Linked DNA regions of Homo sapiens. The protein of the gene in region 3 purifies or fractionates together with the protein of the main gene of each other region. This does not show direct contact. Each region holds a gene or a part of one and is shown on either strand. Other genes may lie near its edges.

Evidence for each region. The genes of interacting proteins can lie anywhere in the genome.
Region 1: the proteins of SPSB4 (region 3) and ARHGEF10 purify together in Homo sapiens (co-immunoprecipitation; 2 studies listed by BioGRID and IntAct, with this or other methods). This does not show direct contact.
Region 2: the proteins of SPSB4 (region 3) and AMBRA1 purify together in Homo sapiens (co-immunoprecipitation; 2 studies listed by BioGRID and IntAct, with this or other methods). This does not show direct contact.
Region 4: the proteins of SPSB4 (region 3) and PCDH7 purify together in Homo sapiens (co-immunoprecipitation; 2 studies listed by BioGRID and IntAct, with this or other methods). This does not show direct contact.

What each region holds. Positions count from the first base shown.
Region 1 is NC_000008.11:1,826,748-1,830,558, reverse strand, and holds part of ARHGEF10 (rho guanine nucleotide exchange factor 10), read right to left. Parts: intron 1-3,811. UniProt on the Homo sapiens protein: May play a role in developmental myelination of peripheral nerves.
Region 2 is NC_000011.10:46,587,391-46,591,201, forward strand, and holds part of AMBRA1 (activating molecule in BECN1-regulated autophagy protein 1), read right to left. Parts: exon of another isoform or gene 3,735-3,811; intron 55-3,734; exon of another isoform or gene 1-54. UniProt on the Homo sapiens protein: Substrate-recognition component of a DCX (DDB1-CUL4-X-box) E3 ubiquitin-protein ligase complex involved in cell cycle control and autophagy.
Region 3 is NC_000003.12:141,061,289-141,065,099, forward strand, and holds part of SPSB4 (SPRY domain-containing SOCS box protein 4), read left to right. Parts: intron 1-3,811. UniProt on the Homo sapiens protein: Substrate recognition component of a SCF-like ECS (Elongin BC-CUL2/5-SOCS-box protein) E3 ubiquitin-protein ligase complex which mediates the ubiquitination and subsequent proteasomal degradation of target proteins.
Region 4 is NC_000004.12:30,726,691-30,730,501, forward strand, and holds part of PCDH7 (protocadherin-7 isoform d precursor), read left to right. Parts: intron 1-3,811.

The DNA.
Region 1 (3,811 bases), on a different chromosome or scaffold from region 3:
AGATTTGCCGGTGCTTGTCATATGGCCACAGGTAGATTTTCTTCATGTGCAAAGGTTGTTTCTTTTTATAGAAGTTAAATCAAGTATAAAAACTTGATTCAAAAAACACATAAGCACAAAAGGGCACTAAACCTAAGCCAACAGAGAAAGGCCTCAAGGGACCAAGAAGGTGCTCGCAGGTGTTTGCACGGCCCCCGGAGGCTCCTGGCAGCCTGGATGCTGGACAGAAGCCACGCCCAGGAGTCAAGCGCCCACCAAGGACAGCCGCCTGGGCCCCACGGGAAATGAGCCGCCTGAGCCCCACGGGAAATGAGCCGCCTGCCACGCATGCCTGCGGATTGCAGTGGAAATCTCCCAGGATTACAGGTGCGCGCACACAGCCTCCCTCCCCTGCCTTCGTCTGATACTCCTCTTGTCACCAGGAGTCCTTGCCCTCTGGGGCCGTCTGCAGACAGAACGGAGCGGGGAAGTGGCTCTTTAGAGCAAGCGGGAGCTGCCTCCAAACTGCAGCCCTCTGACGGCTGGCAGAGAGCACTTCGGAGCCTGCACACTGGAGAACCTAACCCTCTCCTTCTTGCTACCGCTACCTATGACTCGCTCCCCAGATATTTTCATCAGCTGGCAAAACGCTGCACCTTTCATTCCTTCCTATTAAATCATGGAGAAACCTGCATGTCTAAACGCCATTCCAGGAGCAGGGTGCCTGCCGCCGTCCCAGCAGCCTCCCCGGGCCTCGCCGCGCGTTCTTCCTCCGCAGACCCCGGATTCGGGACCACGAATGCAGCGCTGCGCCGCCGTGCAGCGCTGGGCACCTATGACGCTCGTTTAGACTCCAGCTGCAGCTGAAAAGTGACCTATTCTACATAACACAGGACCACAGCTTCCAGAGAAAGGAATTCTCCTCAGCCCTGCTCTGCAAGAAGTGCCTCTGCTGGCTGAATGCAGAGCCCACACAAACGACAGAAAGCCACGAAGCCGCGGCTTCCGTGGAGGCAGCTGGACGTGGGTCAGGGCCTCTCGTGTGGGCTGCTTCCCACGGGCCTGCTGAGTCAAGTGCTTGAGAACAAAGCATGAGTCGACTTTCTTATCACTCCTGCAGCAAGCAGGCTGGCCAGGGTCAGGGGCTGGCTCCAGCCCTCAGCGGACTTCAAGCTGGCCCGGCCCACACAGGGCAACCGCCCACAGGCCTGGCCTTACCACGTCCCACTGGTTCCATGCCGCTGACCCCGCCAGGCTCAGAACTGCACGCACCATCAGGAAGACCCACCGCATTCCCTCCGTCACAGCTCAGCGCTTCTCACACAAAACATACGGAGCTTCTGAACCAGGAGGGTCATTAACTCTGGAGCTCCCTGGGTTGTGTCTACACGGCCCACGCAGGTATCCTGTCGGGACGACTCAGCTCAGGCCCGACATGAGTGCAACTGTGCAGGCGGGGAGCGCTCGGCCTGGCCGGGCTGGTTGGCCGCCCCCCAGGTGTGCTGGAGGCCCTGCCGCCTGCTTCCTCTCCAAAGCTCGAGGACTCCCCGTCCGTGTCCGCTCAGATACGCACTGAATACCACGCTAGCTTATGTAATGCTCTTTGGACTCACTTTTCTCATGTTCCTTACAGAAAATCAGACACTGCACTGAAATCACTGCTTTATTTTCCTTTCAGAAAAAAAAAATAAGCAAACGATAGAATAAAACAGTAAGTGCGCATGCCACAGTTTATCAAAATGTAATTCCTTAAAACCGTAAGTGTGCATGCCACGGTTTATCAAAATGTAATTCCTTAAAACAGTAAGTGTGCATGCCACGGTTTATCAAAATGTAATTCCTTAAAACCGTTAAGTGTGCACGCCACGGTTTATCAAAATGTAATTCCTTAAAACAGTAAGTGTGCATGCCACGGTTTATCAAAATGTAATTCCTTAAAACCGTTAAGTGTGCATGCCACGGTTTATCAAAATGTAATTCCTTAAAACAGGAAGTGTGCATGCCACAGTTTATCAAAATGTAATTCCTTAAAACAGTAAGTGTGCATGCCACGGTTTATCAAAATGTAATTCCTTAAAACCGTAAGTGTGCATGCCACGGTTTATCAAAATGTAATTCCTTAAAACAGTAAGTGTGCATGCCACGGTTTATCAAAATGTAATTCCTTAAAACAGTAAGTGTGCATGCCACGGTTTATCAAAATGTAATTCCTTAAAACCGTTAAGTGTGCATGCCACGGTTTTAAGGGAGGAAGGCACTTTAAGAGGAAGGCACTGCTCTTCCACAACATAATAACGACCACATCCAAGTGTAAGGGTCTGTTCCCCACAGCTGGACAACAAGCCACGGGCACAAAACAAAACAAAGAACGTGATCTCAGCACGGAAGCAACACCTACGACTTGCAGGAGCCTGACTCACCCCGACTCACCTGGTGCCGAAAAGGGCCTCGGCTGTCTGTAGCTATCAGTGGAGGCAGAGTGTTGAGGTACCACAACCATTCCTTCTGTTTTCTTCATTAAACCCCCACTGTGAGTCCCCAGGGACTGACGGTCATTAAGATATTGGAACCTAGAATGGCCAGATTGGTAACTAGCCAATGCTGATGCAGCCAGGCCTATTCTACGCAGACAGCCATGCATCTCTACATGTGCCTGTTAACAACCTGCATGCTTCCCCATCGCTCCCTCACAAGGGCCCCCGCACCAGTCACAGCTCTGGATACCATATTTTACTTTACACAGTTATTTCCCCTATCAGAAGTGACCCATGGAAGAGAAAAACTTTGAACCCAAACATTTTTAAAAATATTTTACACCTTTTTCACATCATTTAACAAAAATATAAAATACCAACAACCCCCATATAGCACTTTCTACTGGCAGGCCTGCTTTACTCTAATGATACAACAAAAAGCAGGAAATGGCAATGATGGAAGGAAAGGAAAAATCCACGATTTAAAATGATCATTTTGACGGGGCATGCAGTGGCTCACGCCTGTAATCCCAGCGCTTTGGGAGGCTGAGGCAGGTGGATCACTTGAGGTCGGGAGTTCAAGACCAGCCTGGCCAACATGGCAAAACCCGTCTACTAAAAATACAAAAATTAGCCGGGCACGGTGGTGGGTGCTTATAATCCCAGCTACTTGGGAGGCAGAGGCAGGAGAATTGCTTGAACCTGGGAAGCAAAGACTGCAGCAAGCCGAATCTCTCCACTGCACTCCAGCCTGGGCAACAGAGTGATACTCCATTTCAAAAAAAAAGATCACTTTTTTATCAAAATTTGGAAAACTACTCACAGAAAACAAACAAACAGAACCAAAACCAATGTCCAAACCTGACAACTATGAACAGGCTGAAGCAGAGTAGGGTGGCAGATGTGGCAGAAGTGTGTGTGTATCAGCGTGGGGGCTGGTGGCAGGGCATTCTCCCTGGGCCCCTTTGCCACACCTGTCCTTACAGGTAACCCTGCCCCTCCCTAGACGGACCTGGGGCTGTGGCCCTGTCTGCCACCCAGGCAAGGACCCCTGCTGGTCACCGGCCTCTGCTCTCCCTGCCTCTCAGACCCTTGGCAGCCCCTGGGCCTGGCCCACCCCTTTCCACTGCAGAGCTCCCAGAACCTTCCAAAATTACACTCCCAGAAAGCCTGGTTAAGGGAGAGAGCTGAAGTTCTCCCTCATGAATGACTAACAGCTACGCTTCCCTTCTGTCTTATTTCACGCCACTTACCTTTCTACCCAGGCAAACTATAAGCAACGCACGCATGAAACACAGATTCTCTGAGCATCTCCAGATCCGAGCTGTTCTTTGCATGCTTCCTGCCACACACTGTGC
Region 2 (3,811 bases), on a different chromosome or scaffold from region 3:
AAAAAATTAAACTCATTAGTCAAGCATGCTAGATATTTATAAGTCCTAGTTATCCTTGACTATGTAAAACCCAGTATTATCATACATTAAATATCAGACACATATTACATGTAGCAATCAATCTTAAATGAAGACTGAAGACTTAGATGGCAGCAAGGAAACTTAAATTTACGCAATTATGATTCGTGATTCCAACTTTTCAAGGGGATTAAGGATGCTATGACTGAAGACTCTAATCCCTGTAAATACCCAGGGCTCGCCTCACTCCTTCTTCCCTCTGTCAGCCCTTGTTTATTTCCTTCAGAATACTTGTTTCAGTCTAAATTTCAATATTTATCAAATACCTATACTCCCCACTGGAATAAACTCCATAAGGAGACCATAAGAACACCTATGTCTACCTTTGTATCCCAACATCTAATGAGTCTTCAATAAATATTTGCTAGATGAACAAACATCTTCATAGGTAAGGGTTGAAACACACAGTCACAATCAAGAAATAGCTCCACAACGTCTGATGGGAATATTTCTGACCTCAGAAAAAAACACGGTACCAAAACAACACACAATGAAGAAAAAAATTTAGGTAGAGAAGTGAAGATTATTAACCCTAAGAGCAGAGGGAGAGACAAAAAATAAGTCAGAAAAGAAATAGAAGGAGGATGGGTGCTGTGGCTCATGCATGTAATCACAGAACTTTGACAGGCCAAGTTGGGCAGATGACTTGAGGTCAGGGGTTCAAGACCAGCCTGGCCAACATGGTGAAACCTGGTCTCTACTAAAAATACAAAATTAGCTGGGCCTGGTGGCACGTGTCTGTAATCCCAGCTACTCAGGAAGCTGAGGAGGGGGAATCACTTGAACCTGGGAGGCGCAGGTTGCAATGAGCCAAGATAGCGCAGCTGCACTCCAGCCTGGATGACAGAGCAAGACTCCATCTCAAAAAAAATAAACAGAAAGTAGCAAGTTGCCCAAGAACTTAAATAACATCTGTTCATTGTTGTTGTAAAATAGCATGGAAGTTAACAATTGAAGAGTACTTTATCCTTTTAAAGCATTTTCACATACTTTTTCTCAATGTAATCAACTTAAGTATTATGATGGGCCGGGCACGGTGGCTCATACCTGTATTCCCAGCACTTTGGGAGGCCAAGGCAGGTGGATCACCTGAAGTCAGGAGTTCGAGACCAGCCTGACCAACATGGTGAAAACCCGTCTCTACTAAAAAAAAAAAGTACAAAAATTAGCCAGCCACATGCCTGTAGTCCCAGCTACCAGGGAGGCTGAGGCAGGAGAATCGCTTGAACCCAGGAGGCGGAGGATGCAGTGAGCCGAGATCGCGCCATTGCACACCAGATTGGGCAACAAGAGCGAAACTCCATCTCAAAAAAAAAAAAAAAAAAGTATTATGATGGATGTTTTACTTTTCCATTCTTTAAATACAGACTCAGAAAAGCATTCAAAGCCTTTGATTTCAATCACAGCTCTACTATACCTACTGTGTGATCTTGGTTAAATTATTTACTGTCACTGGGCTTCAACAAAAAAATGGAAAAATAGTATCTCTATGGGGAAATTAACATCTACTCTAAAGGACTCTTATAAGTAATAAATGAAATAACACATGTAAAGAACATGACACAGTAAATGCTCAATAAAGGACATTAACCTTCCCTACAGCCTCCTTAAATAATTTGTACAAGACTTCTCAGGTAGTAAACCTAGGGCTTAAACCCAGATCTCCTGATTACTTAATCTATTTTCTCCTTACATTACATTGGCAGGCTGCCACATACTACTGGACACATAAATACATGCTGACAATAACTAATCATAAAATTTTTATCCATCAGTAACTAATTTTAGCTGTGCAAAAAAAAATTGATCACATTAACTTGGGGGAGCCTGAAAAGATAAAATATAAATGACCCCAAACCACAGGACAGGCTGTACCACAGCATTTCTATACAAACAGAAATTAAGACACTGAAAGCTCTCTCTGAGTTTATGAGGAACAATTGGAGAATGAAACAAGAATGACTGTGATTAAAGGAACCTAAGTTTTTTTGGGGTAAACCAAACCACTGGGCAAAAAAATGCGGATTCCACTCCAAAATAACTCTACCAAGGCTGAGGCATATCTTAGAAAAAGACACCTCTCTGTGCTAACAACAAAACATTTTCTCTTATTCCTTTAAGAGTGAGATAAATTGGAAGTGTGAGAGAAATTGCCAACTTTTTTTTTTTGAGACAGAGTCTCCCTCTGTCGCCCAGGCTGGAGTGCAGTGGTGCTAACTCGGCTAACTGCAAGCTCCGCCTACCGGGTTCACGCCATTCTCCTGCCTCAGTCTCCCAAGTAACTGGGACTACAGGCGCCCACCACCATTCCCCGCTAATTTTTTTTGTATTTTTTAGTAGAGAAGGGGTTTCACCGTGTTAGCCAGGATGGTCTCAATCTCCTGACCTCATGATCCACCCACCTTCGCCTCCCAAAGTGCTGGGATTACAGGTGTGAGCCACCGCGCCCGGTCTAAAAATTGTCAACTTAAACAGACAACATTCACCAATATGCTTGAGGACCAAAATGTTTGGATTTGATATTAATAAGCACCATAAAGCTACATGATCAAAACAAAAGTTTTATAAGTTTCCTAACACATATTGAAAATATTGTGAAAATTATACAGTATAAAAATGTATGGCCGAGCGAGGTGGCTCATGCCTGTAATCCCAGCACTTTGGGAGGCCGAGGTGGGCAGATCACAAGGTCAGGAGATAGAGACCATCCTGGCCAACACGGTGAAACCCCATTTCTACTAAAATACAAAAAATTAGCTGGGTGCGGTGGTGCGCACCTGTAGTCCACTTGAACCCAGGAGGCAGAGGCTGCAGTGAGCCAAGATTGCGCCACTGCCTGCAGCCTGGTGACAGAGCAAGACTCCATCTCAAAAAAAAAATTAATTTAAAAAAATGTAAGCCAGGTGCATGCACCTGTAGTTCCAGCTATTGGGGAGGGCTACTTGAGCCCAGGAGTTTTGAGTCCAGCCTGAGCAACATAGGGAGACCTCATCTCTTCAGGAAAAAAAAAAAATTAAATTACTACTTTATTAATAAAAATAATCAATTGTTTTCTAACGATATACAAAACTAATCTTTTTCAAGTGATATACATAACTCTGTTCCAGCTTAAGTTCTAGAAGTTCAAATCTTTAATCATCTCCAAGAACTTTCTTACTAAAAGACAGAATTCAGTCACATTCTGAACCCGTCCAGTTTTTAAAGGAAATGTCAACAGAGAACCCAATCTAACATTGACAGAACACCACAAGATTTAACCAAGTAAGTTAAAAGCTGAGTGAAAATACAAAAAATTAGCCGGGCATGGTGGCACACGCCTGTAATCCCAGCTACGCAAGGAGGGCTGAGGCAGGAGAATTGCTTCAATCCGGGAAGTGGAGGTTGCAGTGAACTGAGATCGTGCCACTGCACTCAAGCCTGGGCGGCAGAGTGAGACTCCATCTCAAAAAAAAAAAAAAAGAAAAACAAAAAGAAAAAAAGCTGAATGAACTTCTATCACAAAGCATGAGATAAGTTGATTAAGTTGATAAGCTCTATCCCTGTAACCTCCCATCAACACCACCAAATTTCTTGGCCTCAATTCAACTTAAGCCTCTGCCAATTATTTCCTGCAGAAACATAATAAAATATTCCTAAGATTGCTTCATGACACTCACAGCAATTTCCATTTGTTATTTAGCATTCATTAGGAGCCAATGAGATAGTCCTTATAACTCTAAATTCTACGCAGAAC
Region 3 (3,811 bases):
AGAGAGAATAAAGCAAAATTCCTCCAAAAGCTGACAATGTTTATATCTGGTTAATGAGATAGGAGAAAGAGGTGAATTCTAGTTTTTGTCCTTTTTTTGTATTCTCTAAAATTTAGACATTTATTTAACCTTTTCTAATTAATGAGCTTTATTTCTTCAGAATAGTTTTAGATTTAAAGAAAAACTAAACAGATAGTACAGAGAGGTCCCATATGCTCACTCCATTTATCACCCTAGTTTCCCCAATTATTAGCATCTTACATTAGTATGGCACATTTATCACAACTAATGAACCAGTATTGATACATTATTATTAACTTATTTTAATAATTAATATTAATAATTGTTATTAACATATTTTTTCAGATTTCCTTTTTTTCTCAGATTTCAGTTTTTACCTAATATCCTTTTTCTTCTCTTTCTTTCTTTTTCTTTCCTTTTCTTTCTTTCTTTTTTTTTTTTTTTGAGATGGAGTCTCCCTCTGTCACCCAAGCTGGAGTGCAGTGGCACGATCTTGGCTTACTGCAACCTCCACCTCCTGGGTTAAAGCAGTCCTCCCACCTCAGCCTCCAAAGTAGCTGGGACTACAGGCGTGTGCCGCCACACCTGGCTAATTTTATTTTTTTAGTAGAGACAGCATTTCACCATGTTGGCCAGGCTAGTCTTGAACTCTTGACCTCAAATGATCCACCTGCCTTGGCCTCCCAAAGTTCTGGGATTACAGGTGTGAGCCACCAAGCCCAGCCCCTAATATCCTTTTTCTGTTCCAGATCCCATCCAGGATACCACATTATGTGGAATTGTTAGGTCTCCTTAGGGCCCTCTTCACTATGATGGTTTCTCAGACTTTGGTTCCGATGACCTTGCCGGTTAGGTCAGGTATTTTGTGGGATGGCCTCCAGATGGAATTTGTCCTTTGTTTTTCTCATGATTAGAGTGAGGTTATGGGTTTTGGGGAAGACACCCAAAGGAAGATTTCATTATATCATATCAAGGGTACACACTATCAACATGATAGATTAATATAATAGTAATATAATAATATAACATAATATAATATGATACATTACATGATTAGCTTTAATAGTTTATATGTTTTATTGATTTTGTTTTGTTTTTGTGGTAGTTTTTCCCAAAGAACCATCTCTTTAGTTTTTGCTTAGTTCTATTATTTCCCTATTTTATTATGCTCCATTCATTTTTTAAAATTTAATAGCATAAATATATCAGCCATGATTTCCTCTGAGAACTGCTGTAGAGGCACCCCGCAGGTTCTAGTATGTGGAATGCTTTTTGTTATTGTTGTATTCCAGATATTCTGCAATTTCTATATGGATTTCTTTTTTGATCTGAGTTGGGGTCAAGTTGTTTAAAGAATTTTTTAAAATGCCTAAGTGATAGGATTTTGTGATCTATAATTTTGTGATTAATTTCTAGTTTTCCTTCTGTGTTATCAGATACTGTATTATTTTTGCTTTTTTTGAAGTTTTGTTTGTGACCTAATATACAGGAAAATTTTTTTGATCATTCCATGAACACTTGAAAAGAACATGCATTCTTTGTTTTCAAGGTATAGAATTTGATGAACACATTAGTTAGATCTGTCTTATTAATTATGTAATTTGGTTTTTCTATGTCTTTACTTAATTTTGGTCCACTGGTCCATCATGAGCTAGAAGAGGGAAATTAAAATTACATGCCTCTGATGTGTGTCTGTCTAAGGCCCCTCCTTATATTTCCTCTAGCTTTTGCTCTGAATTTTGGTGCTATTTGGTGAGTTCGGTCTTCAATTGTGGATCGCATTCTTTATTATTATTAAGTATTCTTGTCTCACTTAAAACCTTTTGTCCTGAAATCAACTTTACTTGCCTAATATTAAGATTACAGTGCCTGCTTAGTTTGAGTTCACACTTCCCTGTTATGTGTTTGCCCTTCCTTTATTTTCAAAATTGTTAAATCACTTTGCTTTGGGGAATGTCTCTTATATGTAGCATATGGTTGGGGGTTTTGTGTTTTTCCCCAGTCTTATAATCTTTTTTTAGCAGTTTACTATGGCCATTTAATGACATGGTCAATATTTCGGTCTTAGTTTTACTATCATATTTCATGCTTTTATGCCTTTTTGCCTCTCTTGCTTTCTAACAAAATCTTTCAGTATATGATCTGTTTTATTTTGTATTATGTTCAAGGTTTGTATCTGCAAGATGTGTATTTTTATTTTTAGTTCTGGAGGTTACCTTTATAACTAGCCAAAATGGATTTAATCTTTTGTTGAGACCATGCTAGGTGTCTCCCTTCTGAAATAATCAATCACAAAATTAGTTTACAAATTTGGTTCCCATTTTTATCTGCTTTGTGGCAGCTTTTTTCAGGTGAGTTTGCTTGGTTTGCCATGTTTTGTCCTGTTCGTTTATTCCTTTCTTTCTTCTATAGCATCTTTGACTATATCCTGTGCTGGTTCCTCTTTGAAAGAGGTAAACCTTCTTGGATCAGCATTTTGCAGGAGACACATGTGGAGGAGGTACCAAGAAGAGGGCAGGATTGCTCCCTGGTTCCCAGGAACTTTGTTCACAGGGTTGTTGTAGTGACTTCCTTTAGTCTTTGCTTCTACTCTGTCAGCAGAGTTCTGCAGCTGTGGGCTTCTCCCAATTCAGAGCCCTCCTCTCACTCTGCCTTGCCAACACACTGCTTCCTGTGAAGATGGCGGGTCTGTGGTTTCCTCTGTTGGCCCTGCCCTCCTCTTCCCCCAGGGTGTAGGAGGCAGCTCCCACTACCAGACCACATGCCCTGTTCCCATTTTTTCTGATAAGGGATCATTAGTTTTTTCCTTCAGGGAATGCCAGCTCCTGGCTGGCTCTGCCAGCTTTGTCTGAGATCTGCCACCACAGGTGTCTTCTCTAGGTGTTTTCTCACAGTATTTTTGATCTTCACTGCTTTTGGTAGCCCTTACCTGTTTTGGGCAGCCTTTCCTTATAAGCTGTGTTTCAGGTTATAAATGTGTTCTAGTTTGCTGAAGAAGGAGTTTGCATTTCTTTTTTTCTCCTGGATTTTGGGTGATTTCGGATATGAAAAGGAGTAACTTTATTCTGCTATCTTAAAACTGCCTAGTGTTGCAAATTGTTATGTGTTCTGGTATTCCCTCAGATTGAACATTAGCCAGAGCTCTCGGAATAGGGTCAACATCTGCTGAAGCTGGGATCTGACAATAGAGAGGGAAGAGTATGAGAGTTAAGAATAAAATGGAATGGTGAAAAACCCACAGGATACTTGTCTGTGCTGTGTGGCAGCAGAGTTCTTTTCGTCCCTACCTGGACTTTGGCTAGGGGTGTACCACTGTCTGGGTGGGAGGTTGAGGCTGGGGAGGGCAGGGCATGAAAAACACCCATCCATCTCCTCATCTGGCTCAGGAGAAGTTGTTCTAGGCCCAGCAGCTCTCAGGCCAGGGAGGGGAGGGCACACGCCTCTGCTCTGGACAGGGCTTGGCTCTCCATCTCTCTCCATACCCAGGGCCCGTCCAAGTAGTCCGAGCTCCTTGGGTTCTGTCTGGTTTCCTAGTGATGGTGGCCAATTCCTTCTCCATGAAAACCAGGATCCTGTCTCAGGGAAGGCAGTCTGGGGTCAGTGCTGTTAATGGTATTTACCTGATCGAACAAAGAGCTCACCCATCCAAAGGGAGGGGATCCACATGGGATGCCCAGAGAACAGAGCCAGAGAGGAAAACCTGTCGGCAGAGTTCCAGGACCCTTTATATTATGGTCTCTCAAGTTCCCCCATCACCAGAGGGAGGTGTTTTATCCTCATGTTTTTTACT
Region 4 (3,811 bases), on a different chromosome or scaffold from region 3:
ACTTTTCTGTCATTACATATTCAAAAGAAGTATACACTTTTAACCCCAAGTAAATAGCTGACCTAAAATGAAATAAAGGCAGATGAAACACATTCCCCTTAATGTAATTAGTAATAGTAATTGATATGTTTCATCTCCTCAATATTGCTGTCAGGGGACAAGGGATCCATTTACAAAGTTACATTCCGTTTTGACATCTGACATAAATGGGATCCTTTTTGTTCTGCTTTTTGTTTGTGCCATAAGTAGACAATTTCCTATTTTTATTTTTAAAATATATGACCTTTAATTTTTACAGAACTGCCAAAATATATTTTCTTTGATTAAACCTGATGTTATAAAAGAAAAAAAGAGAATTCAGGGTTTCGCGGGAATTTCCTTCTTTTGATAAATGGATTTATCTAAGGTAAAACTAGACTGTTGTATTCTTTCAATTCCATACAGCAGGGTCTAATTTAAAAATTGAGATTTCATTTTACATTCATTTTATTTATAGTTTTCCTGAATTGCCTTATTGCAGTTATTTATTTGTGAAAAAATTAAAGTGATGTTTCTTAAGAGTGTTCTTATCTTCATGAAAATTAGACATTTTAAAGTGTTGAACCTAAGTCCTGTTGTTTTCATTATAATAGGTTAAACAGCTTTGTAGAAATGAAAGTTTGTAAATAATACTCTCCCTTAACTGCTTACTTTTTGTTTTGTTTACATAGACTTGAGAGCCATTCAAATCAAGCTTCTATGGCAGACTCTAGGAAATGTGTGTGGTAGAGTTGCTGGAATTATTTCCGAAATTCACACTTTAGAAAAACTCACTGATGATGTAGCCCAAATTTTCATAGTTCATACCTTTGCATTTCAAACAAAAGCCTTTGCTCTCAGCTAAATAATGTGTTTAGCTGAGCAAAATGTGGATCATTGACAGCATGATTGAGATTAAGTATCCACCTTTCTGTTTCATTCTTCCTTGGTAAACCTGGTCTTGGTAGTTGTTAAACTTTTGTGAACTAGAAGTACAACTGTGTTTTTCATTCATAACATAAAGGCATACGCATTCTATTTTTCTGTTTATTTTTAAGTCTCTGGTATTTTACTATGTGCTAAGCATTTTTCAATTTTCTTTTAAAATAATGTAATCCCCCCAAAGAGTGATAGTATGAAAAGTACAGTTACTATTTTGCTTATTATTCTTGAATTCTATTGAGCTTATCCTTGATAGGCTGTTATTTAGATAATGCACTTACAAGTAAAAATTTTATTGTATTTAGTAAATGGAAAGTAAGGTAATTTATTTTTGGCAAGAGCTTAGTTTGAATAAACATCCATTTTAAAATCCACTTGCAGCTGATCCTGAAATACAAAAAATTTACATTAACTTCAGTGACAGTTTCAGTTTGTCTTCATAATGTTCTCTTTAGTGATCGAATTATGTTCAATATATTCATTGTATACCTAGTGAAAAAATTTGGGAGAATTTTTTAATTGCTTCAATTTTGGAAGCAAATGGTTGACTTGCTGTCATCTATTAAGCAATAAGAAAACTAAATGTCAATTCATTTGTGTGTGTGTGTGTGTGTATACATACATATGTATATATATATATATATATAGAGAGAGAGAGAGAGAGAGAGAGAGCATATATATATATTCTTTAGTGGAAATGCATCTACATAGTGATGCCAACCATAGCTTCCAGTGCTCATTCTGTAAGCATAATTTTTACAATGTTTTTCTCCTGTCTATAACCAAGGATGTTTTCATAAGGCACAATGAATCTGCATATGTTGTAATTTCCGTTACATTTGGCCTGATACCATAGGCAAAACACTAATAGCTGATGGAAGTTAGGCTGTGTCTTTAGTCATCTAGTAAAGCAACACTATCTGGATCTCTGGATGTCTATGAAATAAGGAAAAGGTCATCCATTGATTTGATCCGCAATGAATTTGCAAATTTATATGGAAGTCCACATGATTATTTGAATCTTATCCAAAACTTATCCTAAACCAATTAATGACTTAGATGTAAGACCACAAAGTCAGTTTAAATATTTTAATGAGCCATCTAGTACAATAAATATGGCAAAATCATTTTTTCTTATCCTTCTATCTTTGAGTAATTACATATCTCGTATGTGAAAAAGTGTGAACATGGTTTATATCACAAACTCTGTACACACAGAGACATATACACACATATTAGTGTATACCATTTATAGCTGTATTAGTCTTTTATTTAGTCATGATGTTTATAGATTAATATGTGAAAAATATCTAAGCTTAAACATACACAATGTTGAAATAAAATATACTATAATCAACAGCTTAATGACTGTACATGAAATCACTAGCATCATCACATTTTAGAATTACAAGGTGTCAAACAGTCCCCTCATTTTAATAGAAGAGGAGACTGAGGCCCAGCATGAAACAGTGACTTGATTGGGATTACAAAATTGTCAGGGATATAATGTGGACTAGAGTCCAAGTTATGGAATGTAGTGTCCAGTATTCTTATTTATCTGATCATACTACCTTTGGGGGAAAAAAACTGAATTTCTGTAACTTTCTGTGTGTGTATTTCAATTGCAGTAGAAATCTGTTGAAATTTACTTACTTATTTATGACTATATATTTGGCTATGAAGATTGACATCTTTACAATAGACTATAATTCTGCTTTAGGCTCCAGTTCTTCTGTGTAAAATTATCTGGGAAAATATAATTCAAAATTTACAGAATTTTAAAGAAGTTAATAATTCTTTTCCCTCATGTAGGATTGTAATTGATAACATAGAGTAAAGCATCTTAACATGGTTAAGAACATATATTCTGTTGACAGAATTTTTAATATTAGCAGAACAATGATAACAGACATAAGTTCCTTCCTAGCAATTAGTATATTTCAATAAAAATTCATTTAAATAGAAAAGAATTAAAACATTCTACACATTATGTATGAAACTTTTTATGCATTCTAATTGTGATAATCTTTTACCTTTTTCATCAATATTGATAATTACTTTTGACTTCTGGGCTTGTGTGCATTTTATCAACTTTGCACATACATTTTATTTTAGTAGCATCCTTAACACACAGTCATGCACGAATGTTTTCTCTTAATTTGTTTTCTAGCAAGTTTTTAGAAGAATATGACATTTTGTTAACTTTCAATTGGATTGCTTCCTTGTTAGGCAGTTAACCAATCTAGTGTACTAGATTCTAAATTTGCACAGTGATAAAATATAAATTATTGAATCTATTAATTTTAAAAATAAAATCTGAACTATTTTAAAAACTAAATATAGTGTGACAAAGCCATTACTTCAACACAGCAATCTACTCTATTAAACATTTTAACATCTTTTCTTTCCTGGGAGGATGTGGTGGTGGAGATTATGTAGGAGATTTAGTATAATTATATACAGTATTTTAAATATATATATAACTTTAAATATATAACATGACTTTGTTTAGAATAGTCATGTATAAAGAGTGTATAATCGATTTCTAGACTATGGCAAGGTTTCCCATTCATTTATTTACTATGACTCTATAGAAATAGTAAGAGCTGTTCCCATATATCTAGAGTAAGCTTTGCTTTTCTTAGTTTTTTTAAAAAAACCCATAGAATCTTTTCTAAAGCAGTGACTCTTTTGCGGTACATTACACTGTGCTTTATTTAGCATTAGTGTTGTGGGAAAAATCACATTCTAAGAAGAATTGAGCTGAAACCACTAAAACTAATCTTAATTATCACTTCTGGTGAATTAATGTTTTAAAGGCGGAATCAAGGTTTATTTTCAGGAATGTAGT